Regions from separate parts of the Homo sapiens genome. Here all the other regions are linked to region 1. Evidence: fine-mapped expression QTL. A gene starts in region 1. Each other region holds a variant in brackets. All regions are shown on one strand. Distances are from middle to middle. Region 1 holds the start of ATP9A (ATPase phospholipid transporting 9A (putative)). Region 2 overlaps ATP9A (ATPase phospholipid transporting 9A (putative)). Region 3 overlaps ATP9A (ATPase phospholipid transporting 9A (putative)). Region 4 overlaps ATP9A (ATPase phospholipid transporting 9A (putative)).

Region 1 (8,106 bases):
AGGGTTTCACCATGTTGGCCAGGCTGGTCTCGAACTCCTGACCTCGAGTGATCCGCCCACCTTGGCCTCCCAAAGTGCTGGGATTACAGGCTTGAACCACCACATCTGGCCCCTAAAATGGGAGAATTAACTCCAAAAACTCACATGGTTGTTGTAAGGATTAAAACAGCCCTATTTATCTCAAGTGTCCAGCAGACAGCCTGACCCATTACATATTACTTTTTTCTTCCTTTAACCACCCACCCACTTTAGCCCTCACGCTGCCATCCCCCAGCCCCTAGTTCTATTTCAGGAAGCTCCTCCATCTCTCTGTGCTTCTCAAGAGTTTCTAAACTTCAGGATTCCACCTTGATGTTGCTACTCCTGAAAATGCAGATTATATACAAGAGCATTTACGCAAATGCACAGCAACCCTGATACACAATTTGAATCCAAATCCATGTCACTGTTTAAGAAATAGATTGGCCAGACACAGTGGCTCACATCTGTAATCACAGCACTTTGGGAGGCCAAGGTGGGTGGATCACCTGAGGTAAGGAGTTCGAGACCAGCCTGACCAACATGGAGAAACCCCATCTGTACTAAAAATACAAAATTTGCCGGGCATGGTGCATGCCTGTAATCCCAGCTACTCAGGAGGCTGATTCAAGGAGAATCGCTTGAACCTGGAATGCGGACGTTGCAGTGAGCCGAGATCGTGCCAGCCTTGGCAACAAGAGTGAAGCTACATCTCAAAAAAAAAAAACAGAATTAGATTAGTTCCAGGCCAAGCACGGTGGCTCACGTCTGTAATCCCAGCACTTTCGGAGGCCAAGGCAGGTGGATCACCTGAGGTCAGGAGTTCAAGACCAGCCTGGCCAACATGGTGAAACAACTCTCTCTACTAAAAATACAAAGATTAGCCGGGAGTGGTAGTGGGCACCTGTAATCCCAGCTACTTGGGAAGCTGAGGCAGAAGAATCGCTTGAACCCAGGAGGCAGAGGTTGCAGTGGGCCAAGACCAAGGCATTGCACTCCAGGCAACAAGAGTGAAACTACATCGTCTCAAAAAAAAAGAAAGATTAGTTCCAAAGCTGGTAAATTCTAAAGGGGCTGTGATGCTCCATTCCAACGCAACCTAGAAAACTTACTTTTAAATAAAATTATCTGCACCACTCCCTCTGGCTCTCCATATGAACGGCTCATGTTTCTATCACGCTAATGATCACTTTTGAACAATATTTGCATTTTTCTTTCATGTACTGACTCAAAAGTTCTCAACTCTGACTGCATGTTAAAATCATCAGGGGAGCTTATTAAAATATATAGATAGAAACCCAGGTCCCACCCTAAATTCTTATTTCAAAGGTCTAGAATGAATCAGAAAAGGCTAGTTAAGTTTCCCTGGTGATTGCAATGAACAGCCAGGGTCAGGACACCCACACCTGTTGGGCAGGTCTTCTTTAATTCATCCTTGCATCCCCATCAGCTGGAGTGGCTCCTGCACATAGTAGGCGTCTCATAATTGCTCATGGCACAAATTAATAACCACTGGATTTTAGACTCCACTGATCATATTAATTCATCACAGTATTTACGGAGGATGTACGATGTACCAGGCACTGTTCCAGGCATAGTGTTCAAGTCAATTGTCATCATTAAAACGAAGGAGGCCGGGCGCGGTGACTCACGCCTGTAATCCCAGCACTTTGGAAGGCCGAGGTGGGTGGATCACGAGGTCAGGAGTTCAAGACAAGCCTGGCCAAGATGGTGAAACCCCCGTCTCTACTAAAAATACAAAAACTAGTCAGGCGTGGTGTCGGGCGCCTGTAATCCCAGCTACTCGGGAGGTTGAGGCAGAGAATTGCTTGAACCCGGGAGGCGGAGGTTGCAGTGAGCCGAGATCTCGCCACAGCACTCCAGCGTGGGCAACAGAGGGAGACTCCGTCTCAATAATAATAATAATACTAATAATAATAAACGCAAAACAGAGAAGGGAGGAGTGAGGGAACTATCTTTGGGTCAGACAATCCGGAGTTCAATCTCCATTTTGCAGTCTTCCCTATAGCCCTTAACCTCCGTAACCTCCAGTTTCCTCCTCTGGGTAATATCAGTGAGGCCTCTTCTTCGGAGGATTCAGGAAGCCAGGGACAAAGACCCCACAAAATGGCCGCCAGCACCATTCTTTTTTTTTTTTTTTTTAATTCCACTGACACCTGGTGAAGCCACCCTTATGGTTCACTCCACCCGCCGCGTCTCCTGTTCCGAGCAACTGACGCTGCAATAAGCGGCCGCCACCGGGAAATGCCCAGAGAGGACCAGACGCCCGAGGAAGGGCGGAGCAGAGCGGCCGCAGGCCCCGCCCAACACCGCGCTCAGCCTCCCGCGGGCTCCAGCCTCACCTGCGCGGCCTGTGGAGCTGCACATCTCCAGGCCCCGCCCCCCAGAACTCTGATTGGCGGGTCTAGGCGGGGGCCGGGAAATCTGCATTTGCACCAGCGCCCACCCCCGTCCTTCCCACCCCCGCCCCTCACGCCCAGGTAAGTCTATGGCAGGCGATACGAGAGCCCCGCAAACCTCAACGCGTCACGCTGCCATCCTCCGAACAGGAAGACGGCGAGGCGCAAAATACCAACCCGTCCCCTCTTCCCAAATGCAGAAAAACCCTTGCCTGTTCCGCGCCTAAGCTGCCCTCGGGGTCTCCTACTGCGGGAAGGGCACAGCAGGTGGCAGCCCCTGTCCCAGCCGTGGGATTCCTTCCCCGAAATTGTGGGGGGAGAACACAAGGGGTAGTGTCACCAAGCGGCCAGTAGGAGACCCTCCCACCCTCCTGCGACTGCTGGTTCGGGTCCACCCCGGGCGGAGGGGGAAGGGGCCACCGGAGCGCAGGTGGTCTCGGCGCAGCCTCCTGGGGCTGGGACCCAGGGGCGCTGATGGGGTACCCCGAGGCGTAGGCCGCGCCCCCCTAAAAGCTGAGCATATCTGGGCTCCCGAGTAATGCTCCAAGCGCAGAGCTCGGTGTGACACTGACCAAATTGTTACCTCAGATATTAATTACGGACAGATATTAATTACGGAACAATAAAACGGTGAGAAAGCACGGCTGATCCGAATTCCGCGAGTGTGTAAACAGCACTGGGGCGGGCCCGGCTTCTCGGGGTTTCTAAAGGAAGGTGGGCAAGGAGGCCCAGGCAACCGGGCGCTCGAACCCCAAAGGGCCGGCATCAGGCTAGGTGCCGCCCGGGGCTGAAGCGCAGGGACCCCCTCCCCACCTCCCCGCCTCCCCAGCCCTGCCCCAGGCTCATGGCGCCGGGCGCGGCGCGCGGCCAACCTGTCAGGCCCGGCCAGGCTGGCCCGAGCGCCGGGCTCCGGGAGGCGCGGACAAAGGAAAACACGGGCCCAGGCCCACTCACCCGGCGCGGGGCCTGCTGTCCATCCGCTTCTTCTGGCGCACCGGCTGCAGCGGGATGTTGTCCGTCATGTCGGCGGCGCCGCCCGCCTTGGCCGCCGCGCCCCCCGCGCCGCCTGGGCCGCCGCCCGGTCCGGCCTCCGCGCCGCCGCCCGCCGGCGCCGCGCCGCCCCGGGGGAGGAGGCGGCGGCAGCGGGCGGGCCGGGCCCGCAGCGAGGGGGCGAGCTCGCGAGCGCCGGGCCACGCGCGGAGCGCCCGCGCGGCCCGACCGACGGACACGGGCGCACCATGGGCCCGAGCTCCGCGCTGCGCCCGCTCGCTCCGCGCCGCGCCGCGCCTGCCACGGGGGGCGGCCGGGCCGTGTCCGCGCCGCCGCGACCGCTGCAGTGTCCCCGCCCCCGGCCCGCGCCCGCGCCCCCCACGCGCGCCCACCCGGCCACGCGCCCCCCGCCCACGCCCGCCGTGCGCGCACCCTGCCACCGCACCCCCCGCAAAATCCCACATTCACAATCACATCCCAGCCCTATACACGCGCGCTGTGACACTCATCCCCACCAATATCTGACATGCACAATCACACGGGCACCCGGCCACGCTCACCCCATCAGTCAGTCATTCTCACTCACTCTTGCACCAACGTGCATATTCACGCCCAGGCCCTACACACACACCTGCCACTGCTCACTGCCTGCAACATCTAACATTCACAATCACATGTGAGTCCTGCACACACACATAACACTCTCACCCTCCTGTTGGTCACCATCATCCATGCACCCAGTTTCTCAAGCCTCACACCCATGTGCCTGCAGAAATCACAGTCACACAGGGACCCTCAGCTTATCAGACTCCTTCACCCTCTGACCTTCACCATCCTCACCCTCATTCTCTATCTGGATTCTGGGAACTCACCATGACACACACGCACCTGCCTCTTTCATCCAAACACCCTTCAATAGTCTGAACACCCTCATTCTCACACCAGCCACTTTCTTGGGCTTGCACATGGGCCCCACTCTCAGGCCTCAGACAGTCACCCTGCATTACCTGTCACTGTGATTCACGGTCTCACACACACACCTATCTCCACCGCAGCCCACATCCACACTCACTTCCACACCCTCCCACACAGTGTCTGGGACCCATGAACTTTTCAAAGGCCTGATAAAGTTATGAGAGCAGGAAAAAAAAAACAGAGGGAAGGAACAAAGTGAGGGAGTTTAAAAATCAATATGTAACTAAAGAGCCTGAAATTGTAATAATACCATATAAACTAATCTAAAGCTGACTTTTACATAGTTACATCTAATGACTGATCATGTTGGACGCCGTTTCTTTTTTTTCTTTTTGAAACAGAATCTCCCTCTGTCGCCCAGGCTGGAGTGCAGTGGCAAAATCTCAGCTCACTGCAATCTCTGCCTCCCAGGTTGAAGCAATTCTCCTGCCTCAGCTACCCGGGTAGCTGGGGTTATACATGTGCCTGGCTAATTTTTGTAGTTTTAGTAGAGATGGGGTTTCACCATGTTGGCCAGACTGGTCTTGAACTCCTGGCCTCATGTGATCTGTCCACCTCGGCCTCCCAAAGTGCTGGGCTCTTCCTTGGCATTTGCTAAATGCCATAGAGATTTAATTGGGATGAAGGAAGAGCATCCGGCCCAGTCCACCTTTCCAACTCTCACCAGAAGCCTTTCCCTGCTCCCACGGGCCACTGCGCTTGGCCCTTTTATTTTGTTTTATTTGTTTGTTTTTTTAAGTTAGTGCTAACTGCCAGCAAGTGGATGCCTTTTGTGTTTGCTGTCACACAGGATGGAGCCACCAAATATCCCAGTGTCTGAGGTGGATCTCAAACCAAGAAGTGTGACTTATCTCATGCACCAGAGAAGTTCCTCAAGAAAAGAAGCATGTCATTAGTAATTGCTGCATTGCACATTTGGAGAGGAAATAGCATTCTCCAGCCAACAGGCCTGGTGTGCTTTGCTTCCTGCTGTCTCTTCTACATCTAAAATGATGCTTCGTACATAGCATGGCACAAGTTGGCACTCAATAAAGGCTTCTTGCATGGAAGAAGGATAAACACCCTGACACACCAATTATGGCATCAGTGTGGGTCCCACCATCTCCCATCTGCTTTGCTAGACATCCCCCTTTCAAACTCCACACCCTCTTCTCAACCCCACTACTACACAGGGTACAAGAGAAGACCAAGGAGGCCGGGCGCGGTGGCTCACACCTCTAATCCTGACACTTTGGGAGGCCGAGGTGGGCGGATCACTTGAGGTCAGGCATTCGAGATCAGCCTGGCCAACATGGTGAAACCCCATCTCTACTAAAAAACAAAAATACAAAAATATATTAAAATCACCCGGGCACGGCCGGGCGCAGTGGCTCACGCCTGTAATCCCAGCACTTTGGGAGGCCAATGCGGGCAGATCACGGGTCAGGAGTTCGAGACCAGCCTGGCCAACATAGTGAAATCCTGTCTCTACTAAAAATACAAAAACTTAGCCACGCATGGTGGCAGGCACTGGTAATCTCAGCTACTCAGGAGGTTAAGGCAGGAGAATTGCTTGAACCCGGGAGGCGGAGGTTGCAGTGAGCCGAGATCATGCCATTGCACTCTAGCCCAGGCAACAGTGCGAGACTCTGTTTCAAAAAAAAAAAAAAAAGAAAGAAAAGGTTAGCTATTAAAAGTCCTACTTCTATGATATGAATATTCATAGTTTTCCCTAATTCAAGAATGAACACAACAGCATTATCAATGCTCATCCCTGAAAGATTCCAGGTGGGTTTTTAAAATACAATTTAATTAGCAGGATTTTTTGTTTTAGTAGTTTTCCATTTATAGAAAACATAAGCAATTAGCACAGAGAGTTTCATATGTCCCCATCCTATATCCATGTCCCCAGTCATGGGGACAGTTTCCCTTATTAACATTTTGCGGTACATCCAGGTGGATCTTAAATATTTCATTGCTTTTGTTTTGTCAATACTCTCTACTTTTTCTCTAGCAAAACGTGTTGCTTTTGCAATAATTTTTTCTTTAAATAAGTTTTTAAAAGATGAAAGAGCCCACTATTAACCCTCAAAGGTACTAACACTCTCATATGGAAAGAGAGGGGGAAATTGTAGGTGGTTTTTTGTTTTGTTTTGTTTTGTTTTTGCCTTTTTACTTTCCAAATTTTCTTTCTTTATTTATTTATTTTTATTTTTGAGATGGAGTCTCACTCTGTCGCCCAGGCTGGAGTGCAGTGGCACAATCTCAGCTCACTGCAGGCTCCGCCTCCCGGGTTCACGCCATTTTCCTGCCTCAGCCTCCCCAGTAGCTGGGACTACAGGCGCCCATCACCATGCCCAGCTAATTTTTGTATTTTTAGCAAAGACAGGGTTTCACCATGTTAGCCAGGATGGTCTCGATCTCCTGACCTCCTGATCCACCTGCCTCGGCCTCCCAAAGTGCTGGGATTACAGGCGTGAGCCACTGCAACCGGCCTTTACTTTCCAAATTTTCTTTAGTACGCTTTCATAATCAGAGGAGAAAATACATTTAAAAAAACTCCTTTTTGTTTTTATTCTTATTATTTTTTGAGACAGAGTCTCACTCTGCTGCCCAGGCTGGATTGCAGTGGCATGATCTCAGCTCACTGCAACCTCCGCCTCCCAGGTTCAAGCGATTCTCCCGCCTCAGCCTCCTGAGTAGCTGGGGCTACAGGCACACACCAACATGACCGGCTAATTTTTATATTTTTAGTAGAGAAGAGGTTTCACCATGTTAGCCAGGCTGGTCTCAAACTCCTGACCTCAGGTGATCCACCTGCCTCGCCTCCCTAAGTACTGGGATTACAGGCATGAGCCACTGCGCATGGCCGTTTTTATTTTAAGAGACAGAGTCTTGCTCTATTGTAGCTGGGACTACAGGTGTGCACTGCATGCCAGGCTAATTTATTTTATTTTTTATAGAGACAAGGTCTCACTATGTTGCCCAGGCTGGCCTTGACCTCCTGGGCTCAAGCCATCCTCCTGCCTTGACCTCCTAGTGTCCTGGGATTACAGGTGTGAGCCACTGCACCAGGCCGAAACTCCTTTTCAGCAAGGTAATCCCTCAGGAAGGGACGCACCTGCAGGCTTAAATCTCATCTTGAGAGAGAATCAGATGCCTGCTTGGGACAAGCGAGACACCCAAGGGATCACCAGAGCGGTGCCAGGGTCTAGGAGAGGGGCAAGGCTGGGGGAAGTGATGAGATGTGAGAGGTTAATCTGAGGCCCCCTTCTGGGTATACAGCAACCCCTCTTCCTGACACAGCACTACCTTCTGCCCAGGAATAGTCACCTCATGGTTCTGCTTCCTCAGGAAAAGCCCCTTGACAATCCTCTCCATCCAATAGGTCCTGGGTACAGTGCACCCCTGACTCCTAGGTATGTGGAGTGGAAAGGTCCTGGAGGGATAAGCCAATCTAGTCCAACTTCTACTTTCCAGAAATCAGAGAGACTGTGGCCCAAAGAGGTCATGTCACATGCCTCTATGTCACATGCCATCCATGCCCGATGGATGACAGGCTGGAGCCGGAATATACCTTGAAACTCTCATCTTGGCCCACCATGAAGCCTTATGTTCATAGACCTCCAAGCCCACTCCTGCTTTATTATTTATTTGTTTGTTTGTTTGTTTGTTTGGAGATGGAGTCTCACTCTGTTGCCCAGGCTGAAGTGCAGTGGCATGA
Region 2 (8,106 bases), 38 kb before region 1:
TTGAGGCAAGAGAATCGCTTGAACACAAGAGGCAGACGTTGCAGTGAGCTGAGATCGCGCCACTACACTCCAGCCTGGGTGACAGAGCAAAACTCCATCTCAAAAAAAAAAAAAGTTACGTCCACAGCATGTCCAGACGTGGTGGTACATGCCTGTAATCCCAGCACTTTGGGAGGGCGAGGTTGGCAAATGGCTTGAGCTCAAGAGTTCGAGACCAGCCATGGCAACATGGTAAAACCCCATCACTACAAAAAATACAAATATTAGCCAAGAGTGGTGGCATGCACCCGTAGTCCCAGCTACTCAGGAGGCTGAAGTGGGAGGATCAATTGAGCCCAGGAGGCGGAGATAGTAGTGAGCCAAGATCATGTCACTGCACTCTCGCCTGGGTGACAATGAGTCCCCCACCTCAAAAAATAAAAAGTGAAACCCCATCTCAAAAAATAAAATAAAAAATAATTTTTAAAAAGTTAAATGGCCGCACACAGTGGCTCACGCCTGTAATCCCAGCAATTTGGGAAGCCGAGGCGGATGAATCACGAGGTCAGGAGTTCAAGACCAGCCTGGCCAACATGATGAAACCCTGTCTCTACTAAAAAATAAAAAAAGTAGCCGGACATGGGAGCACGTGCCTGTAATCCCAGCTACTCAGGAGGCTGAGGCAGGAGAATCACTTAAACCCGGGAGGTGGAGGTTGCAGTGAGCCGAGATCACGCCATTGTGCACCAGCCTGGGCAACAGAGGGAGACTCAGTCTCAAAAAAAAAAAAAAAGCTATGTCCACAACATGACCTCAACTCCATAAAATAACACAGTCAAATCCTCCCCTGGGGAGCAGCTAGGTGCTAGTGTGGTTCTGACCATTGGCATGCACCCGAGAGTCAGACTGAGACCACATGACTAGTTTGGGCCAATAGGTAATGAATGGACGTACTGTGTCTCGTTGAGGCTAAGGCAGCTAAGAACCATTGGTGCCTCTTGAGCCACTCTGGTGACTTTGGTGGCCACATAGTCCAGGTGCCATACCCAGGAAATGGAGGAGTGTGGCCCAGTCTGCATCAGACTTTCCATGAATGAGAATAAACCTATTCCTCACTTGAGGTACTGAGAGTTGGGGGGAGTTGAGGAAACCAGCAATGAATATAGTCAAAATCACCCTTAAAAACATTCACGGCTGGGAGCGCTGGCTCGTGCCTATAATCCCAGCACTTTGGGAGGCCAAGGTGGGTGGATCACCTGAGGTCAGGAGTTCGAGACCAGCCTGGCCAACATGGTGAAACTCCGTCTCTACTAAAAATACAAAAAATTAGCCGGGCGTGGTGGCGGGTGCCTGTGATCCTAGCTACTTGGGAGGCTGAGGCAGGAGAATTGCTTGAACCCAGGAGGCGGAGGTTGCAGTGAGCCAAGATGGCTCACTGTGCTCCAGCCTGGGCGACAGAGCGAGACTCCATCTCAAAAAAAAAAAAAAAAATTCAAATTTCTGTTTGGGAGGCTGAGAGAGGAGCATGGCTTGAGCCCAGGAGTCTGAGGCTGCAATAAGCTCTGATCATGCCACTGCACTCCAGCCCAGGCAAGACAGTGAGATCTGGTCTCTTAAAAAACAAATTCCAATTGACCTTGAACTCGACTATATAATAGATTTGTGCCTCTGCACTATCACTCAATATCTAACACTACCATTATGTTCCTTTCTGCATTGGAGCTGATTGCTACTGCTGCTTCTCAAAGTCAACTGGTGTGTGTTTGGAGGCAGTGCTGGATAAAAATAGATATTTAATTTATGTGCATGTTGGGGAGAAGGTTTGCTGAGTACATGTCCACAGATTTGTGTAAGTTAATGTGGAAGTGTTATGCCACCAGAAACATTTATTATTAGCAAAAATACTAATGAAAATTCTCTCTATAGATGGTAAGATTAAAATGCATCTTTATTTTTTCTCCTCTAAGCTATTATCTCCCAACTTGCCAATATTGACTACATGTGTCATGATGGGGGGAAATTTAAGCACTGCTGACATTCTTTTCTGCTGTTTTGGTCATAATGCTAGGTCCCCAGAATGTCTTTTTCATTCTTAGGCTTAGCACACCAAATACATGTGAAGTTACTCTAACTGAGCAGGTGGGGTCACAGCCTTGCAGAGAGAAGGCAGGTGCCCCCTCCACCCCACCCCACCTCCAACCCCGCCACTACCCAGTGCTGAACCCAGGGAAGATGAACAACCAGGGACTAAGGTGGCACAGAAAAGTCACTGACATCTGCCACAGGGAACTCAGTCTTTTAAGACTGTACCGGCGGGCAAGGTGGCTCACATCTGTAATCCCAGCACTTTGAGAGGCTGAAGTGGGTGGATCACCTGATGTCAGGAGTTCAAGACCGGCCTGGCCAACATGGTGAAACCCCATCTCTACTAAAAATACAAAAATTAGCCACGCGTGGTGGCACATGCCTATAATCCCAGCTACTCAGGAGGATGAGGCAGGAGAATCGCTTGAACTCAGGAGGCGGAGGTTGCAGTGAGCCAAGATTGCGCCACTGCACTCCAGCCTGGGCGACAGAGTAAGACTCTGTCTAAAAAATAACATGACATGACATAACATCTGTACCAATGCATGTATTTGTGATGGAAAAAAGAAAAGAGCACGGTCCCTGCCTGCACGTACCCCAGGAAGAAAGGTGAAGAAATTGTACTTCTGATTGTTGATGACATTCCGAGGATACCTCTGGTCTCTCTTCTCGGGGTGCCCCAGCCAGACAGTGCGGGGCCTGGCCTCCCCTCCACCGCAGCATCTCAGCCACTCGCAGCACCTGTGGGAAAGAAACCCACGCATCAAGGCCACGCCCACGCATCGAGGCTGTGCTCATGTCTGCCCACTCTTCGCAGATTGCTTTTCTCTACAGCATCTTCTCTGGCTCAGGACCACAGCCATATTTGAGGCTTCATCTTTCAGTGAAACAAGAAAACAGAGCAGAAGCTCCCACGAAGCTGTGGTCCAAATAAAAGATGCTTTGTCCTGGCCAGGCGCGGTGGCTCACACCTGTAATCCCAGCACTTTGGGAGGCCGAGGTGGGCAGACCACAAGGTCAAGAGATCGAGACCATCCTGGCTGACATGGTGAAATCTCGTCTGTACTAAAAAATACAAAAATTAGCCGGGCGTGTTGGCACGTGCCTGTAATCCCAGCTACTCAGGAGGCTGAGGGAGGATAATCGCTTGAAACCAAGAGGCGGAGGTCGCAGTGAGCCAAGATCGCACCACTGCACTCCAGCCTGGCGAAAGACTGAGACTTCGTCTCAAAAAATAAGTAAATAAATAAATAAAAAGATGCTTTGTCCCCAATCCCAAATTATTTACAGTCTTGCATTGTTAAGCGACAAGGATACGCTCTAAGAAACGCATTAGGCCATTTCGGCACTGTGGGAACATTCTAGAGTGACTTACACAACCTGGCTGCCATCACCTGCTATGCACTAGGCTGAATGGTACAGCCTATTATTCCTCAGCTACAAACCTGCACAGCATGAGACTGTACTGAATAAGACAGGCAGTGGTAGCACAATGGTAAGTACTTGTGTCTCTAAACATATCTACATATAGAAAAAATACAGTAAAAATACAGTATTCTAATCTAATGGGGCCACTGTTATATATGTGGTCTGTGGTTGGTTGATATGTCATTATGTGGCAAAAGACTGTGTTCCAAAAAGTAAGATTCGGCCAGCCATGGTGGTTTATGCCTATAATCCCAACACTTTGGGAGGCCAAAGCAAGAAGATCATTTGGGGCCAGGAGATTGACACCAGCCTGGGCAACAAAGTGAGACTCTCATCTCTATTAAAAATTAAATTTTTTAGCCAGGCACGGTGGCTCATGCCTGTAATCCCAGCACTTTGGGAGGCCGAGGCAGGCGGATCATGAGGTCAGGAGTTCGAGATCAGCCTGACCAAGATGGTGAAACCCCGTCTCTGCTGAAGATACAAAAATTAGCCAGGCATGGTGGCAGGCGCCTATAATCCCAGCTACTCGGGAGGCTGAGGCAGGAGAATCGCTTGAACCCAGTAGGCGGAGGTTGCAGTGAGCTATTGCCACTGCACTCCAGCCTGGGCAACAGAGCGAGACTCCGTCTCAAATAAATAAATAAATAAAAATAATAATAATTTTTTAAAGGTAGGCTTTATTTTAGAATAAAAGGATTTAAGAAAATAAATATATCACAGTAAGTACTATTATTACATCTATGCTTCACAGATAAGAGAGAAGCTTGGGCCAGGCGAGGTGGCTCACGCCTGTAATCCCAGCACTTTGGGAGGCCGAGGCAGGCGGAGGTACCTGAGGTCAGGAGTTCAAGACCAGCCTGGCCAACATGGTGAAACCCCATCTCTACTAGAATTACAAAAATTAGCTGGGTGTGGTGGCAGACGCCTATAATCCCAGCTACC[A/G]GGGAGGCTGAGGCAGGAGAATAGCTTGAACTCGGGAGGCGGAGGTTGCAGTGAGCCAAGATCATGCCACTGCACTCCAGCCTGGGTGACAGAGGGAGACTCCATCTCCAAAAAAAAAAAAGAGAAGCTTGGAACAGCTAAAGCACCCAAGTTTGCAGAGACGTAAGAAACAGCTGGGTCTGGCCTTGAACTGTGTCAGCCTTATTCCAAAGCCTAGTGTCTTTTCCCCACCCCATGCTGTCACAGCTGCTAGTTCCACCAAGATTGCTATATAAAGGAAAAGGGGGAGCGGGGGAATCTCCTCTCCACCCCCAGCTTTCCTTTTCAGCAACACATTAGAGGAGCAAGCCACAAAGATGATGTCTCAGAGCTCGATATAACCTGGAGAGAAGCCAGCACACCAGCTGTCGGCAGAACGACCCCAAGGGCGCCCCCAACGTGGTTTTCCCAAGAGGACAGCTCATTGGTGCCAACATCAGCACCCCCACTCCCAGGTCACCCTCCCACGAGGCAAAGGAACACCTAGGAATCTGGGCTGCTCTGGCAAAACGAGGTGCTCTGAGGACCCCAAAAACGGCAGCTTGTCCTTCAGGAGAGCTTTATTAAACAAGGCACTCTGAGAAGTACAAGCTCCCGAAAAACTGCAACAAAAACGTCCCTCGCTGGACCGCTCACCTCACCGCCCCAGCACTCAAAGGCTGAGGCAAGGTCCCAGCCCTGCCAGCCCCCTGGGATGTCGCCAGCTAAGGTGAAACCAACAACTCACATATTACTCGTCCACCACAGACCTTCCTTCTTCCCTTGTTCCCACAGAGCAGGTCCTGGTGGGTGCTGGGGTACAGAGCTAAGAAAACACAGCCTCTGTCCATCAGGACCTTAAAGATGAGCGAGCCAGCAGGCTGCCTGCTCAGATGCTCAAAATTTCCATGATGAAACACAATGCTCTTTCTTAAAAATAGCATCCTCATTCCAGTAAACCAGCATTCATGGTGGAGTGTGGCTCTGCTAAGGTTTCACTTCTAGTAACTCATTCTTGTTGGCCCCTTTCTAAGTTGTCCAAAAGCCAGAGACACACACAGAAGCCTCAAGGAGTCCAACCACTCTCGCCACTCCTGTTTCCAAGTGCAAATCACCCATGCTGGCCATCAGTGGACACTCACTGAATACATTTTGAATGAATGGAGGAAGCAAAGAGGGAGGGGGAGAGGAAAAGGATGGGAGAAAAAGGGGAAGGAGGAGAGGAGCGAAGGAAGATTCATTTGACAGAAAGCGCATCACCGTATTTGCAGAAACCTTACTGGATGGTGAAGACTGACTCCTCTAAGAGCCAGTAATTCTCTCCCTATCCTATAATAATCTAGTAATGACTGTCTTCATAGTTGTACAGTTCTAATGAAAGATGAAAAATGAATTTAAGAGAATCACAAACTGTCAGGTTGACTGTTTATACAAAATTTTTGTTCTGTTTTGTTTTAGCAGAAGTTTCCAGACATCAAGCTATCCGGTTACAGTTATGCTATTTATTAATTACTTAGCCTATCACCTTTGTGCATATGCACAAAGTACAGGTCACTCACTGCACTATGGGAGCAAGAGATTGGAAACAAATCTAACCATTTGTTTCAGTCCCTTCCCGCTACTATAACAAAATACCTTAGACTATGTAATTTACAAACAAGGAAATGTATTGCTCATAGTTCTGGAGGCTGCAAAGTCCAAGATGGAGACACCAATAGATTCAGTATCTGGTGAGGCCCATTCCTCATGCCTTTTTTTTTTTCCAGACAGAGTCTAATTCTGTTGCCCAGGCTAGAGAGCAGTGGCACGATCTCCACTCACTGCAACCTCCACCTACTGGGTTCAAGCCATTCTCCTGCCTTAGCCTCCTGAGTAGCTGGGATTACAGGCGTGCGCCACCACACCCAGCTAATTTTTGTATTTTTAAGTAGAGACGGGGTTTCACCATGTTGGTCAGACTGGTCTTGAACTCCTGACCTCGTGATCCGCCTGCCTTGGCCTCCCAAAGTGCTGGGATTACAGGCGTGAGCCACTGTACCTGGCCTTTTTTTTTTAATTTTTTTTTAAATTAAAAAATCTGTATTACCCAGGCTGGTGTACAGTGGTACAATCACAGCTCACTGCAGCCTCAAACTCCTGGGCTGAAGCAATCCTCTTACCTTAGCCTCCCAAGTATATGGGACTAAAGGCATGTGCCACCATGCCTGGCTAATTTTTTAATATTTTGTAGAGTGAGGGTCTCACTATGGTGTCCAGGGTGGTCTCAAACACCTGGCCTCAAGCCATCCTCCCACCTTTGCCTCCCAAAGTGGTGGGGTTACAAGTTGTGCCACCATGCCTGGCCCCTCATGCCTTTTTCTTTTCTTAAGATGGGGTCTCACTCTGTCGCCCAGGATGGAGTGTAGTGGCATGATCTCAGCTTGTTGCAGCCTCAACCTTCCAAGCTCAACCAATCCTCCCACCTCTCAGCCTCCCAAGTAGCTGGGACTATAGGCAAGCACAATCACACCTGGCTAATTTTTGTAATTTTTTTTTTGTAGAGATGGGGTTTCACCATGCAGCCCAGGCTGGTCTCAAATTCCTGGGCTCAAGTGATCTGCCCACCTCATCTTCCAAAGTGTTGGGATTACAGGTGTGAGCCACCCCACTCAGCCCCTCCTGCCTCTTTTATAAGGGAATTCATGAGGATTCTGCCTTCATGACCCAATCACCTCCTCAGTGCCCAACTTCATACAACTATCAGATTTAGGGAGAAGGGATACATTCAGACCATAACACCGTTCATCAAAGGAAGACTGGTTAAATAAACAGGGATAAGCCATAAATGAAATTCCTAACCCCCTCTAAAGCATAAGGTCCTCTTCCGGTTCCAGGCACTTCGGGAGCTGTGGGTTCGGTGCAGACATGTCCAAGTCCACATACAACCACACACAACCAGGCCCGAAAATGGAACAGAAATGGCATCAAGAAATCCCAGTCCACGTGTATCCCATTTTGGTTTTTTTAAGAAGAAATTTAAAAAAGAAAGAAAGAAAGAAAGGAAGAAATCCCAGTCACAAAGATATGACTTTCTTAAGTGGGTGAACCCCAAGTTCCTGAGGAACATGCACTTTGCCAAGAAGTACAAGAAGAAGTGCATGAAGAAGATGCAGGCCAACACCACCAAGGCCCTGAGTGCACACGCCGAGGCTATCAAGACCCTTGTAAAGTCCAAAGAGGTTAAGCCCAAGATCTCAAAGGGTGTCGGCAGCAAAATTCATCGACTTGCCTACATTGCCCACTCCAAACTTGGGACGCATGCTCATGCCCGCACTGCTAAGGGTCTTAGGCTGTGCTGGCCAAAGGCCAAGAATCAAACCAAGGCCCAGACTGCAGCTCCAGCTTCAGTTCCAGCTCAGGCTCTCAAAAGTGCCCACGCCCCTAAAAGGCTTCAGAGTAGAGATCTCCATCTGCAAACATGAGGACAGAAGGATTGGTATGACCTCTGGGCTGCCGTCTGCATGGGGTTGGTATCTTCCTGTGCTATTTGTACAAATAAGCCTGAGGCAGGGGGAAACAAACAAAAAAAAGAATAAAATAGCGCTGTGTGCACAAAATGACCCAATCTGCAAAATACACAAAACCGAAAAGCAAGGGGCTAAAAGGTGTGTG
Region 3 (8,106 bases), 130 kb before region 1:
ATGGCGGAAAGAGATGGCACAGAATTAAGAGTGATTGTGACTGGGTGCAGTGGCTCAGGCCTGTAATCCCAGCACTTTGGGAGGCCGAGGTGGGTGGATCACCTGAGGTCAGGAGTTCGAGACCAGCCTGGCCAATATGGTGAAACCCCGTCTTTACTAAAAATACAAAAATTACCCAGGCATGGTGGCGGACACCTGTAATCCCAGCTACCCAGGAGGCTGAGGCAGGAGAATCGCTTGAACCCAGGAGGCAGAGATGCAGTGAGCTGAGATCACGCCATTGCACTCCAGCCTGGGTGACATAGCGAGACTCTGTCCCCGTCCCCACCCCACACCACCCCCACTCCGAAAAAAGGAGCAATTGGCACAATTACGGATCACTCCTGGAAGTATCTGCAACAAGCTAAACAATAAAAAAAAGAAGGAAGAGAATGCTGACTGACACAGCCCTTCGCCTTCAGGCTCTCCTTTCAGCCTCACACACTGCACTGGGGGAGTGTCTTCAGTGGTTCTCAACTGGGTGATTCTGTCCCCCAGGGGACCCGCGCCAACATCTGGGGGAATCTGTACTTGTCACAACTGGAAGGAGGTAATGCTGGTATCCAGTGGGCAGAGGCCAGGGATGCTACAAAACGTCCCGTAACACACAGGACATACCACACCAGAGACTGATCTGGCCCCAAATGTCAATAGTGCTGAGGTGGAGAACACGGGTCCACACAGAAGAGGAAACCAAGGCTCAGAGCAGTTAATGAAGTTGCCCAAGGTGACAGCGCTGGCATGTGGCAAAGCTAGGCCAGACTGGCACCTGGATCCGCCTGGTGTAAAGTTCCACAGCACACACTCTTCCCTTCCAAGAGTCATCGCACGGGTGTCAAGTCAGAACCTTCTCATGGCCTCAGCCAGACATACTCAGCTTAAGGTCAAAGGCATGAGGGTTGCAAACTCCAAGACAGGGGCCAGAGTGTTGATACAAATAGCAAAGAGGGCTGAGTGGGGGCTGTGGCAAGCAGGAGCCCAGCCCCAGCCAAAGGAGGCTGCTGCCACTATACACACAGGTGGCAGTTACTGCCCTGCAGGGACTAGGGCCAGGGTGGATGGAGCTTCCAGTTTCTCAAGAAAAAACAGAAATTTAGACTTCTCCCCGAGACGGCCTAACTTTTAAATGTAAGCAATTGGCCAGCTGCTGTGACTCACACTTTTAATCCCAGCACTTGGGGAGGTTGACGCAGGAGGATCACTTGAGCCCAGGAGTTTGAGACAAGCCTAGGTAACACAAGGAGACCCCATTTCTAAAAAAAAATTTTTTAATTATTAGGGTGGTGGCTCATGTCTGTAATCCCAGAACTTTGGGAGGCTGAGGCAGGCAGATCACCTGAGGTCAGGAGTTCGAGACTAGCCTGGTCAACATGGTGAAATCCAGTCTCTACTAAAAATACAAAAATTAGCCGGAGGTGGTGGCATGCGCCTGTAATCCCAGCTACTCAGGAGGCTGAGGGAGGCGAATCTCTTAAACCTGGAAGGTAGAAGTTGCAGTGAGTAGAGATCGCACCACCCCACTCCAGCCTGGACAACAGAGCGAGACTGTATCTCAAAAAAAAAATTATTATTAGGGTGGGGTGGTGCATGTGTGTCGTCTCAGTTACTCAAGAGGTTGAGGTGGGAGGATCACGATCTGGGAGGTGGAGGCTACAGTGAGCCATAATGGTGCCACACTACTCCCACCTGGACACAGAGTAAGACCCTGTCTCAAAAACATAATAATAGAGCCGGGCGCGGTGGCTCACACCTGTAATCTCAGCACTTTGGGAGGCTGAGGTGAGTGGATCACCTGAGGTCAGGAGTTCGAGACCAGCCTGGCCAACATAGTGAAACCCCATCTCTACTAAAAAAATAAAAATAAAAAAAATAAAAAATAAGCTGGGCGTGGTGGCAGGCGCCTGTAATCCCAGCTACCAGGGAGGCTGAGGCAGGAGAATCACTTGAACCCAGGAGGCAGAGGTTGCAGTGAGCCGAGGTCGCGCCATTGCACTCCAGTTTGGGCAACAAGAGCGAAACTCCATCTCAAAAAAAAAAAAAAAAAGATAAAAAACACTTCCAGTGGAGGTGATGCCTCCCAAGTACCCCTCTCCCTATCACCTACCTGCAGCCCCTGTCAACACCCTCCTAAAACCTGCCTCCCCTACTCCCCCTAAAGATTAAGCTTTATGAGAGGAAAGTGGGAGGGCCTTCCTTTTCTTCTTTCTTGATTTTTTGTAGACACTGTACCTTTGGACTTGGATGGGAATAAAGTGACAGCTTGTTTGGCATTGAAGTTGGAAGCCCTCCTGTATTCCTTTCCTGTTGTTGCTGTACCAAATTACTGTGCATCTGTTTTTTTTTGTTTGTTTTGTTTTGTTTTGTTTTCGTGATGGAGTCTCACTCTGTCACCTAGGCTGGAGTGCAGTGGTGCGATCTCGGCTCATTGCAACCTCCACCTCCCGGGTTCAAGCAATTCTCCTGCATCAGCCTCCCAAGTAGCTGGGATTACAGGCACCTGCCATCACATCTGCCTAATTTTTGTAATTTTAATAGAGATGGGATTTCACCATGTTGGCCAAATTGGTCTCAAACTCCTGATCTCAAGTGATCCACCTGCTTCAACCTCCCTCCCAAAGTGCTGGGATTACAGCCATGGGCCACCGCACCGGCCAGCATCTGTTTTAAAATGAAACAAATAGATTTTCTTACAGTTCTATAGATCAGGGGTGGACATGGGATGAGGGTCTCACTGAGACAGGATCAAGGTCGCTTGATCACCATTGCTGCATTGCTGCGGAGGCTCTAGGGGAGCACCTGTAGTCCCAGCTACTGGAGAGGCTGAGATGGGAAGATTGATTCAGCCTGGGAGGCAGAGGCTACAGTAAGCTGAAACCATGCCACTGCACTCTAGCCTGGGTGACTGAGTGAGACTCTGTCTCCAAAAAAAAAAAAAAAAAAAAAAAAAAAAAAAAAAAAAACCTGGCGTTCCTCTTGAGTTCCCATTCCTTTTACCAAGAGAGCTCTGCAGAAGCCACAAGGCAAAGGTATGCAGCTCTCCACCCCTAGTCCTTTCTTTCTCTGGAACCCCTGGATGTCATCTTAGCTGACCTGCTATACCCCGAAGAAGAGATCAAGCTGGAGCTCAAAACTGGGGTTCCAGTCCCCGCTCTGTCCCCAGCCCCCAGCCCCCACAGGCCTCTGCAAAATAAAGATCTTGGAGTAGATGACTATTTCTCATTTCTGCTCCAGCTCTGAAAATGTATCTTTATGCATCCTTAGTCTACTATGCTCAGATATCGAGTTCAGTTTCTGTTGCTTCTATTAACTAAATTTACATTAGCAAGAAATTATTTTTCAAGACTCTCCCTTATTTAAGTTCAAGTCATAATGAGTCAGCCAGCACTAACGAGCTTTGAGCTTTGACCAATGGAAGAAACTGTCATACTGACCTCTACCTTTCAAAGAAAGGACCAATCAAGTAGTGGGTTTTTCTGTTTTTATTTTGTGTTTTTTTAGTTTTAGTTTTTGGCTACTGGCCTGCCTAAGTCTTTGAAAACTCATTCACTTAGTTATTTGTTTAATTTAATGGCTATGCTATAGACTATGTTTATGTCCCCTAAAATTCATATGTTGAAACCTAATCCCCAATATGATAGCAGTTGGAGATGGGGCCTCTGGGAGGTGATTAAGTCCTGGGGGTGGGGTTCCTCATGAGTGGATG[T/A]GTGCCTTTATGAAAGAAACCCCAGAGAGGTCCCTCGCTCCTTCTGCTGCGAGAGACAGAGTGAAAAGAGGGCCTTTTATCAGCCAGGAAACAGGCCCTCACCAGACACCAAATCTGCCAGTATGCTGACACAGGACTTCCCAGCCTCCAGAACTAGGAGAAATAACTTCTGTTGTTTACAAGATACCCAGTTGATGGTATTTTGTTATAGCAGGCCATGTTATAGCAGGCCAAACAGACTAAGACACTCTAACTTTCAATATAGCCCTGTTTTGTCTGCTAACAATTGTCTTCCAAAGTTTAAAATTAACAAATCAGTAATGATTCGCATATATAAAATCATACCAGCCAGGTGCAGTAGCTCATGTCTGTAATCCCAGCACTTTGGGAGGCCGAGGCAGGAGGATCACCTGAGGTCAGGAGTTCAAGACCAGTCAGGTCAACATAGCGAAACCCCATCTCTACAAAAATACAAAAACTAGCCAGGCATGATGGCGGGTGCCTGTAATCCCAGCTACTCGGGAGTCTAAGGCAGGAGAATCGCGTGAACCCCAGAGGCAGAGGTTGCAGTGAGCTGGGATGGCGCCATTGCACTTCAGCCTGAGCAACAGAACAAGACTCTGCCTCAAAAATAAATAAATAAATAAAAACAAGAAAAAAAATTATCCCATCTGTCTATGTAAAAAAGCTTGGGTGCAGTGTAGAAATGTTTATAGAGTGATACACATGGAGAGAATTACTTCTAGCTTTTACTTCTAGCTTTTTTTTTTTTTTTTTTTTTTTGAGACGGAGTCTCACTCTTTTGCCCAGGTTGGAGTGCAGTGGCGCGATCTCGGCTCACTGCAAACTCCACCTCCTGGGTTCATGCCATTCTCCTGCCTCAGCCTCCCAAGTAGCTGGTGCCCGCCACCACACCCGGCTAATTTTTTTTTTTTTTGTATTTTTAGTAGAGATGGGTTTCACCATGTTAGTCAGGATGGTCTCGATCTCCTGACCTCATGATCTGCCCACCTCGGCCTCCCAAAGTGCTGGAATTACAGGCATGGGCCATGGCGCCCGGCCACTTCTAGCTTTCTATACCACCGAAATGTTTCAAACGTGTATACGCATTTCTTTTACGTTTAACTTTAATTAAATAAACATCCCAATACAATTCAAATATTACAAATACCTAGTTATGTACAAGCTAAAAAACCCTGACTAAATTTATATCCTTCCTTATATACCTATTAAGTAATAAAGTAAAAAAAAAAATTATTCTTCAGGTACTTTCAAACACTTATGGAAATGATTTTTTTATTCCTATTCTCAAGTAGCTATTACTTTGCCTGTTAATTGCCCTGAAAATATGTGAAAAGTCTGTGATACTGGGCTTCCAGGAGATACACTAATTCCCCAAAAGCCTGCTTTTAACTTTAATCGAGAAAGAATCTGTAACTCCAGAACCAGAAGTGGCTTCCAGGGCTGGGCAGCAGAATCGGCCAGCCCAGCATGCCCAGCTACAGACCCCACAGGTTCATGTTAGTGGAAACGTTGAATAACTATAACCTGAAATGATCAGAAATGACAAACGCTTTTGAGGAAAGATCAATTACAGCTGTATGTAAACATCTTTTAGCCTTGCTTTCTTCTAGAGCAAGCCTCTCAGTGGAGCTTAGGAGCCTACGACAGCTATATCTGTAGCCCTTCCCCACCCCTGGGATCCACCATCCTAATCAAAACCTCTGCAGGATCTGGCGAGGTGGCTCACACCTGTAATCCCAGCACTTTGGGAAGCCAAGGCAGGCAGATCACCTGAGGTCAGGAGTTTGAGACCAGCCTGGCCAACATGGTGAAACCCTGTCTCTACTAAAGATACAAAAATTAGCAGAGCGTGGTGGCAGGCACCTATAATCCCAGCTACTCGGGAGGCTGAGGCAGGAGAATGGCGTGAACCCGGGAGGTGGAGTTTGCAGTGAGCCAAGATCGCGCCTGGGCGACAGAGTGAGACTCCGTCTCAAAACAAACAAACAAACAAACAAAAACAAACAAACAAAAAAAAAACAAGAACGTTCTCAGTCTCTTTGGGAGCTGATTCCAACAGGATCTGAGCCCTGCAGGAAGTCTTTCCTTCTCCCCTTCCACTCTCCTCCATTTTAGCTTAAGTCAGTGTTAATTTAAAGCTACTTTCTAACAGGACACATAACATCCCCCAGAGTCCTACTCAGGGAGGACCAGTTTAGAAGTGGGGTACTCACTAACACCTCTCGATTGTGGGCCAGACAAACATCTGGGGAGTGAGCTGAGATAACTGCATTCCCTCCCAAAACAAAGTGATATACAACAAGGTTACTTAACATTCTGGCTTCTGTTCAAAGAAATCACCCCGTAACACACAAGATAGAGGATTTCAGGGGCTTGCATCTCACTGCTGTTAACAGCCTGAGTTAGGGTCTCAATAACTGCAGGTCAGGCCAGCAGCAGAAAACACAACCTCGTTAAGGTGGATGAATGAACAGATACATTAGACGCGAGCTGGATAAAATGCTGGAAAGGTAGAAAGGGCGGGGAGGGGATCCTGTCTCAGGAGTCTGTTGTGTTTTCTCCTTTGGGTGACAAGAAACCAAAGGGGCAGAGCCCACACCTTTCCCTGCCTCAAATGCCCATGTGAGGGACTCAGGCCAGAAACCATCCGTGAAAGGGCTTTTTCATCATTTCTTGGCCAGCAATAAACCACTTGTGACAAGTTTTTAAAGTTTTCTCTTTGTACCTGGGATGCTGTGCTTGGGAAATAAGCCAGATCACGCTCAGTAGCCTTGAATTCTTGTCAAAAGCAGGATACATACCAATCATCAGAGCACGTATGATACGAGGCGGGAATGTGACATCTGATAAAAGGGGTTATTTGGTGGCATTCAATAAGATAAATACTTAAGCTCACAAAGAGTCACCGGTCAGCCCTAATCCAGCCTTTCAAAATTATAAATCTATCCACAGACACACGGTTTTCTTCACTCAATACGAAAATACATTCAAATGCACCAGGCAGTGGTTGCAGGTTCAAATGCCGACAGGCGTTGGGAGAGAAGCAGACAGGCATAGGGCAGGGCCATGTGGGGGTCAGAAGAAAACTGAGGCAGCAGCTGCCCAGCTTGGCCAACCACTGCCAGGTAGAAGTTGGGCCTACTATTTCCAGACCTGATCTTTCTTGAGAAAAACTAATTTTGACATAAAATCAAGTGATTTTTAAATACTGCTTCAATTTTTTTTTTTAACATAGCATGAAACAAACAAAACACAGCCTGCTAGGAATCAGCGGAAGAGACAGTGGCATAAAAGGTCACTTCTTGCCAGGCGCAGTGGCTCACGCCTGTAATCCCAACACCTTGGGAGGCTGAAGTGGGCGGATCACCTGAGGTATGGAGCCTCAAGACCAGCCTGGCCAACATAGTGAAAACCCATCTCTACTAAAAAAAAGTGCAAAAAATTCACTGGGCCGGTGGGTGCCTGTAATTCCAGCTACTCGGGAGGCTGAGGCAGCGGAATTGCTTGAACCCAGGAGGAGGAAGTTGCAGTGAGCTGAGATCACACCACTGCACTCCAGCTTGGGCAACAGAGCAAGACTCCATCTCAAATAAATAAATAATAGTCACTTCTTGATCCAAATGTCTTGTACTTGAAATTGAACTTCCTATCACTTGACTGATAAAAATAAATACTTAAGAAGAAAGAACAGCATCATCTTCCTAAAATGTGATCATTAAGAAATGACTATTTATAGACCGGGCACGGTGGCTCATGCCTGTAATCCCAGCACTTTGTGGGGCCAAGGATGGTGGATCACTTGAGGTAAGGAGTTCAAGACCAGCCTAGCCAACATGGTGAAACCCTGTCTCTACTAAAAATACAAAAAAATTAGCCAGGCGTGGTGGCACACACCTGTAATCCCAGCTACTCGGGAGGCTGAGGCAGGAGAATCCCTTAAACCCGGGAGGCGGAGGTTGCAGTGAGCTGAGATTGTGGCACTGTACTCCAGCCTGAGCAACAGAGCAAGACTTCATCTCAAAACAAACAAATAAACTAAAAATACAAAATTAGCCAGGCATGGTGGCATATGCCTATAGTCCCAGCTACCCAGGAGGCTAAGGCAGGAGAATAGCTGGAACCCAGGAGGCGGAGGTTGCAGTGAGCCAAGATTGCACCTTTGCACTCCAGCCTGGGTAGCAGAGCGAGACTCTGTCTCAAAAAAGAAAAAGAAAAAAAAAAGAAATGACTATATATTAACTCTATTCTGAGCCAACACTAATATCACATGGGACAGAGCTTTTGCCTCTATGGCCCATGGATAAGCTAACACCAAGGGAGGCACATCTGACAGTTTCCTA
Region 4 (8,106 bases), 170 kb before region 1:
CCCTGTGCCCCTCCGACATGCCCAGCCTTTCCTACCCCGGGGCCTTTGCACACACTGCAACCACAATGTCACTTCCCCAGATCTCTCTGAATGACGCTCTGCCTTTGCAAACTTGCCCAGGGTCCTGTGGCCTTAGCCATTGTTCAAAGTTAGAAATGAACCTCCCCCCAGTATGCTAGGCTGGCCTGGGCATCCCTGACTAGAGAACATACCCCTCATGGGGCAGCCCAAGGAGAAAGCAAAGGGACTCCTCAAGAATCCATTGACTGGCTGGGCACGGTGGCTCATGCCTGTAATTCCAACACTTCGGGAGGCCAAGGCAGGCAGATCACTTGAGATCAGGAGTTTGAGACCAGCCTGGCCAACATGGTGAAACCCCGCCTCTACTAAAAATACCAAAATTAGCCAGGTGTGGTGGCACGTGCCTGTAATCCCAGCTACTCGGGAGGTTGAAGCAGGAGAATTGCTTGAACCTGGGAGGCAGAGGTTGCAGTGACCCAAGATCGTGCCACTGCACTCCAGCCTGGGTGACAATGCAAGACTCTGTCTCAAAAAAAAAAAAAAAAAAAAGAATCCATTTACTTGGGGATCTTGGAGAATAGAATTGGCCAATCATTAAAAACTTTTTTTTTTACATTAAATCCACTAATGGAATAGAAAGCAGAATTTCCTTGAGATTAAAAAAAAAAACCCCACAAGGCATGAGAAAATTGAGGGGGACGGTGTGGCTGGCACCCACATGGATAGGTTGGGGGGCATCACTACCAGCTTCTGCTCTTACAGGGTCCAGAGGTGCACAGCACCCTCCTTCTCATCCTGCAGCCCTCTGCTCCAGTGGGCCCATCTCTGACTCCCAGCACTTTCCCCACCTTTATTCCTACCTGGTTGTCATCCTCTGCCTAACCCTTAGGCTGCTTTATCTTAGGAAGCTTTCTCTCCACCTGATGTTAGTCTTAATCTGTTTATTGTCTTTCACACACATACACACACACACACACAGAGTGTAATCACTATGAGGGCAGACACTACGCTTGTCTGGTTCCCTGCCACGCCTCCAGCCCCAAGAACAGTGCCTAACACATAGGAAGTGCTCAGCAAATATTTGATCAATGAAGGAATAAAAATGTCAGCATATTCTGCACATCTCCTACCCATCCCCCAACACTTTTTCCATTCCTTCTGGACTCTGCAATCTTTCTCAAAGGAAATAAAAAATAGTCCTGGGCTTATCTGGACCTGATCTGATCAAAGAAAAAAAATGTATTTCTTTTAAATCTCTTGAAAACAAACACCACAGGCTTAGAACACCAAGTTCTTAATGTAAGCAAACAGAACCTGCTGGCTGAATTCTAAGAAATGAGCCCTGGCTTGGTATCAAGCATAGGTTGTGGGGCCGATGACTTCACATGTGACTCAGTTACCCCAAATTTCAGGGGGAATCCATTTCAAAATCAAAACGTCAACATGGAAAGTGGAGGGTGGCTTTGTTTGGGCATTCCTGCAAGAAGGCAGGCTTTCTGAAAAGATGCTATGTTATAGATAACTCATCCACAAAAGGGGGGCAGGAGGGATGGGGAGAAACCCCAGGATTGGGTGTATTTCTCGGCTAAGGCTTTGGATGCAAACTGATCCGGGAATGCGTGATCCTCCAAAAATCCACCAGCCCCCAAAGTGCTTGAGTTACCCCTCCGACCACAGCCACATGGAAAATGAAATTAAATCCCACGGAAAGATTTGACTTTTTTAACATTATGCAATGTTTGGGTGAAAAAAGGGGGGTGGGGAGAGGGAGATCAGAAAAAAATTCATCTTTTTCCCAGAGTTTAGCAGAGCTATTTCTAGCTTTTAATGATACATTTCACCATCACTTCATGGGTAGTTTTGAGAGGCGCGAAGGCGGGACCGGTTCTGTTATGTAACCCATTTAAAGTAGGAAATTAGCAAGTCCTGAATGAATTCTGTCACTGTGCTCCCACTTCTGGAAAATTTGGAGCGACTACAGTTCTATTTTGAGGTGAGCAAATCCATCATTTATAGACCTCCTCACAAATACCACAGGGCTTCATGTCACCCTGAAAAGTTTCATAACAAAAACACTAAAAGTACTTGGGGTGTTGGTACATTTCGTCTCAAAACCTTATTAGACTGAACAGTGAATTGGCAAAGCTTCCTACTTGCCAATTATTCAAAAATGCAAATATCCAAGAGCAAATAAATATTCATCTCTCACCCTCCCTGCCTTTTTTTTTTCCTTTTTTTTTTTTTTAACTAAGTCCAGCAAAATATTCTGGTCAACAACATGAAAAGAAATGTCTGTTTTTCACGGAGCCTCTGGCCATGAAATAAATTCTGAAGCTATGAAAGCACAGTCTTGAAACTCAGGGCAGTTGGGCACGTGGGGTCCGGCTGGTTGTGGAAAACAGGAAACAGCAATGTCTTTCAGTCCTCAAGTTCCCCCTAGCGGCTCCGGCGGAGGAGTGTCCGCACATGGACGGAAGTTCACTGCAGGCAAATGCAGAGGCTTAAGGTCGTGCAGGGATAGCACACGTTTAAGGGAAAGCATGGTCGGTCCCTACCTTTGAAACCACATACCTTCCTTTTGCTGCTGTCATGAGATAACACAACTAAGTTACAATTATCTTTCTAATCTATATACTGAGGATGGCCCTTTCCATTGAGAACCAAAAAGAGGGAACCAGCAGCTCACACTGCAGACAGCCACTAATTACACCATTTGGTATAGTATTTGGTATAGTAGGCGGAGGCATAACTTGCTTCCTGAGACACACGAGCTTATACCTCCGGGCCCTTTTACAAATACAGACAGACAAATGGTACAGCTGACACGTGCCAATTAAATTAGGGTTTCTCTGGCTGGGCGTATGGGCTCATGCCTGTAATCCCAGCACTTTGGGAGGCTGAGGCAGGCAGATCACCTGAGGCCTGGAGTTCGAGACCAGCCTGGCCAACATGGTGAAACCCCGTCTCTACTAAAGATACAAAACTTAACCGGGCGTGGTGGCAGGCCCAGCTACTCAGAAGGCTGAGGCAGGAGAATCGCCTGAACCTGGGAGGCGGAGGTTGCAGTGAGCCAAGATTGCACCACTGCATTGCAGCCTAGATAACAGGGCAAGACTCCACCTCGAAAAAAAATAATTAGGGTTTCTCAATGTTGGCACTTTTGACACTTTGGGCTCTGTTGTGGGGGCCACCCTGTGAATCACAGGGTGTTCGGCAGCATCTCTTGCTTGTAGCACTCCTCTTCCCCGAGTTGTAACAACTGAAAAGGTCTTCATACCGCCACGTGTCCCCCAAGGGACAAAAATCACCCAATTGATTTCAACTACTTCCTACACAAAAGCTTTTTTTGTTTTGTTTTGTTTTGAGACGGAGTCTTGCTCTGTTGCCCAGGCAGGAGTGCAGTGGCACAATCACGACTCACTGCAGCCTCGACCTCCGAGGCTCAGGTGATTGTTCCGCCTCAGCTTCCCAAGTCGCTGGGACCACAGGCTTGAGCCAGTACACCCAGCTCGTTTTCTTGTATTTTTTGTACATGAGTTTCACCACGTTACCCAGGCTGGTCTCAAACTCTGGGCTCAAGCAATCCTCCTGCCTTGGTCTCCCAAAGCTGGGATTACAGACATGAGCCACTGCGCCGGGCCTTAAAAATTTTTTCTGCCTAAAACTTAACTGACTGTTCCTATATGTTCCATCCCTCGATAAAAAAAAAAAAAAAAGATTCCAGTCATCGAGGACCGTGTATAGAAATACAATATGAAGCTTATGGTTTTCATCTTATTTTCCATTTATATCTATCACCTTTTGAAATTCTGACACGTCTGGGATGGACAATAGTACAAAATAATAAATAACATGCATTGATTTGGGGTTTTTTTTGCCAAAATCAAAATAATTTTCTGAACTGGAAAGAGTTTTCTTTACATTTCATGTACCATGAAATAAAGAAAAAATAGGAGCGTTATAATAAAAAGTCCTCATTTTGATACCAGAATTCATGTTTCTGTACAAATTAAAATAATCCCCCAAGGCAGAACGTACACAAGCTTTATTGGGCAACAGCAACGAGCCACGCTGGCAAACAATGAAAGTAGAGTCGCTCAGAAACACGAAAGATCATATGTGTGTCATCACAGCATCGAGAATTTAAATCATCTGGAAGTTCCTGCTAAATTAAAGCATACTGTGCCAGAGCTCCCCTCTAATCAAAAAACGCTGTCCTGGTGAAAATTTGCAATGAGGATTACAGAGAGAGAGATCAACCAATGAGGAAATCACAGACTCTTACATGAGTTTACAGTTAACCCCACTGCAACAAAATAATAAATTAGCCATAATTTGTTTTTTTTGCAAATACCATGCCCCCCACCTGACCCCACAAACACAACAGTCACTGACATGGCCCAGCTATATTAACAGACTGCGCCTCAAACCATGCTGTGGCGGAGAAGACAGATTCACGGGTAATGCCGCTTTGGCCTGAGAAGATGCTTCGGAGCTCCAGGTGGAGGAGCTGCTCACGCTGCAGGATGCTTTGCAGGTTCATTCAAAACCAAATTTTTTTCCAAGAAGAACTGGACATAATTCATGGGAATATTTTAAGTATATATAAGTGGCAAAAAAGCTGTACATTAAAAGAAGGGGGAGAAATAAAATGTGTT[G/A]TATTTACAAAGCTCTTTGTATATTTTTTTAAATGAAAACAAAGCTGGGAGTGATAGAATTTTAATGCAATGAAAACCAAATAATTCTTCAAAAAACTTTAGATGACATCATTCTCTCGCTCTTTCACACACACACACACCCCCCACACACTTCAAACATACAGAAAAGGTTAAAGATAAAAATAGCTGATAGGTGTTTAAGTAGGATGGAGCAGAAGAATGTACATGTCCCATTTGCAATTTTGGCAAAGGTTTAAAATGCTGCCCTAAAGGCACGCACGCATGCCCAGCCTACCCCAGTAAAAACAAGACAAAGTATAAAAAGAAAAGTCTGGCGGGGGGTGGGGGAGGCATTAGCATATCAATTTCCAATGAGCACAAAATTCAAAATACATTAAAAAGTAGCATGGCTTACATTTTCAGCAGAGAAGAAACTGAGGAAATGTTCATAAAGAGACAATGATTTTTAAGATTTACTGTCACAAAAAAAAAAGGGTTTCACTTCAGGGGAGTGGAACTGGGATGGGAATTTTACAATGCTAGTTCCAGCACGTGGTCTAATGGCCCCAGGGGCTGGAAAAGGGAGGTCTGCTCCAACTTTAAGATGCGCCCTTGGGATGCCTTCCAAGCAGCTGGAGTTAGTGCCACCTGTCTCACCTGGCACCACAGGCAACACACATGTGCACACGCATGCTTTCAAAATGAGGATCAAAACTGTCCCACATAAGAAATTACTCAAGATGGAAAAACTAGTCTGGTGATTTTCTTAGAGAAAAAAAAAGAGAGACAAAAAGGAAGGGGTGGGGGGAGGGGAAGAAACCAAATAGATCCTGCTTCCCCCTGTCACACAACCATCATCAAAAGACATATGAACAATAATAAAATAGTAATAGAAGTTCTTACTCTGGCAGAAATAGCTAGTGTTGTCAGAGGGCGCAGGGAGCTGTGAGTTTTGCTTTCAGGAAAAGTGTTCAAACAGTGCTGACTGTGTACCTCAAGGCCCTCTGACCTCAAATTAAATTGGCTGTCAAAGACTTACGGCCCATGGAGCTCCCAGGTGACAGTGTCAATGGCGCTTTATGTAAGTTCTTTCCAGATTGATGAACCAAGAAAAAGGTCAACTGAATCCTTATGCTTAAGGTTTACAAACTCAGGAGAGTTTCTTGTATAGTAACTCTAGTTTCTTGTTTGCTTATTTCTTTGTCTTCCCCACCACAACTAAGATGACCTCCGAGAAGTACCCAGGCGCCCCTGGGGTTCTCTGCTGGGCTTACAGTCTGATTGTGCAGGTAAAGATCGTGTCCTCTCACCGGACTGCATCCTCCTGCCTTTGCGTCTCCAGTGTCTGAGAAGCACGGTGTGTGCATTCCTAGGTGTTCAGGGACCGTCCAGTGAATGGCGTCAGCCAGCTGCCCACTGATGGGATGGGCCAACGACGTGGCAGTTTGCACTTGAGTGTCGGTACTTCTCACCCTTGACCGCCTCCGCCCCAGTGCGGCTGAGACAACAGAGTAAAAAGGTTTGTGGAGAACACTGACGAGTACCTTCCACTTCCAACTATGGCTTCTTCAGCCCCTCCTGGGAGCATTCTCCCTTGAAGATGTCAATCAGTATCTTAAGCGTTGGCTTTAAAAGTCAACTTGTGCACCTCAATCAAAATTGAGAATTAAGGAAAAGGCCAGGGAGACCATCTTCATTCTGCTTCTGCTGGAAACCTCTAAAACTTTCTGACGAGGCTCCCACACGCCCTGCCTGCAGGAGCCAGCATCCCGAATCTCCGAGCAAAGCCAGGTACAGGGTTTGCAAAGTCTAAACAGGACTATCTTAAGACTTCCCAGCGTTACAGAGCCAGGTTCAGCATCTGCAAAGTCTAAATGGGACTATCTTAAGACTTGCCAGTGTTACAGACTGATTTCCAAGAAAACGGAGGCTTAAAAACTTCCAGCACAAATTTCTCCTCCACCTTTGAAAACACAGAAACTCACTCAATGAATACGTCAGATTTGCTCAATCTTTCTGAAATTTTTGGACAAAGATCCTATCCTTAACTATTCACTCAATACATCTTTTCTGCCGACCTTTTCCCTCTGGCAGAAATGGCTGAATCAGATAGAGAAAAGTACTGCAAAACTGCAGAATCATAAGACAAAATAGATGTGGTGTCAACAGCCAATTAACCAGTACCTGCAACGTAAAGTCATTCTAGAACATTTTAAAAGGACAACACAAAATACAAAAGCTTATCAAGAGTGCTCCAAAGGCAAGGGACTATCTGATCCTCGTGTCTCCAGCTCTCCAAGAGCAGGAGTTAGTAGGCATCAGAAACCAGGCTGTGATGTACATCTCTGAAGCACACAGAAGTAGCGCCAGGCAGAGGGTTTGAAGGATATGTATTCATCAAGAAGTAAACGCAAATCCAAGATCTCAACCACACTTGGCTCTTAAAGATCCACCAACTTAACCCTTATGGCATGCATATGTGGCTTCTGCAAGAAGCAACTTGAAAACCCAAGAATGCCTTGCTCTACCACGTCCCGCGACTGCAAACTCCCTTCCTCTGAAACAAGCAGCCACAGCTTTATAAGAAACATGCCGGCATGTAGTCCATCCTGGGAGGGGAGAAATCTTCACCACTGGCTGCCTTTCAGCAAGTTCCCCTTGAAATCTGCCGGCAGTGGAACAGATCCCAGATCCCAACGCTGTAGCTTGGGCGTCCTCCCACCAGGGGTTCCTTGTTCTGAAAGCTGCCACCAGTGTTGTTCCGAAAGATGCCTCTGCCTTTGTGGGGTCATCTTCCATTATGCCTCCTAACAGGAAACAGGCTTCTATGGAAGAGAAGAGTCCCAGCCCCCTGACCTTTCCGCTTTGGTCTTGGAGGATCTGAGTCACATCTGCCATGTTGCCTAAAGAATTAGTTGAGTCTCTTATCACACTGTCGACACATTTAGGGGCCATTCAGTGGCACGTTTCCTGCTAAAACAACTCTGCTGAAAATGTCTGAGGTCCTTCTCAAACAGCCACTGGCTTTGTGATTGTTACCAGGTCCCAATAAAGCGGGATCACACCTCTGAAATTCTTTTACGAGGTGGCAGGTGAAGTTAACTCACACACTATGGATGCTGAATCAGATCAAGGATAACAGATTGGACTTAGGACACTCTCTCTCCCTCTCCTCTCATTTACTGGTTACGATCCCAGGAATCCAGTGTAACCTGGATAAGCAGGGCTGGCTGGAGACGATACTGAGCATTTCCGAATGGAGATTATTGTGTGGATAACTTTTTACCAAATGTCACTGTCTTTTCCTCCCAAACCGACACCAAGAGCTTTCTATTTTTCTGACACCTCTTTGTAAGAGCAAGAAAGACATAAAGAGTACATACACATTAGGACTCTTTAAAAACACACACACACACACACACACACA

Evidence for each region.
Region 2: its variant is fine-mapped to the expression of ATP9A in caudate (GTEx, PIP above 0.99). The same link has a PIP of 0.9 or more in substantia nigra.
Region 3: its variant is fine-mapped to the expression of ATP9A in whole blood (TOPMed, PIP 0.96).
Region 4: its variant is fine-mapped to the expression of ATP9A in whole blood (INTERVAL, PIP above 0.99).

Annotation. Positions count from the first base shown.
Region 1 is chr20:51,764,910-51,773,015 of GRCh38, forward strand. ATP9A (ATPase phospholipid transporting 9A (putative)) reads right to left here and starts at 3,481. Exons shown (of 28, transcript NM_006045.3): 1 at 3,393-3,481. The coding sequence starts at 3,460.
Region 2 is chr20:51,727,174-51,735,279 of GRCh38, forward strand. It overlaps ATP9A (ATPase phospholipid transporting 9A (putative)), which reads right to left. Exons shown (of 28, transcript NM_006045.3): 2 at 2,661-2,805. It also overlaps the pseudogene RPL29P35. Among named protein-coding and RNA genes, the nearest start is that of ATP9A, 37 kb to the right of the region's middle. The variant A/G (reference allele first, on the strand shown) is at 4,438.
Region 3 is chr20:51,639,766-51,647,871 of GRCh38, forward strand. The region is part of intron 14 of ATP9A (ATPase phospholipid transporting 9A (putative)); the gene reads right to left. Among named protein-coding and RNA genes, the nearest start is that of NFATC2, 100 kb to the left of the region's middle. The variant T/A (reference allele first, on the strand shown) is at 3,743.
Region 4 is chr20:51,592,727-51,600,832 of GRCh38, forward strand. ATP9A (ATPase phospholipid transporting 9A (putative)) reads right to left here. Exons shown (of 28, transcript NM_006045.3): 28 at 3,788-8,106. Among named protein-coding and RNA genes, the nearest start is that of NFATC2, 54 kb to the left of the region's middle. The variant G/A (reference allele first, on the strand shown) is at 4,680.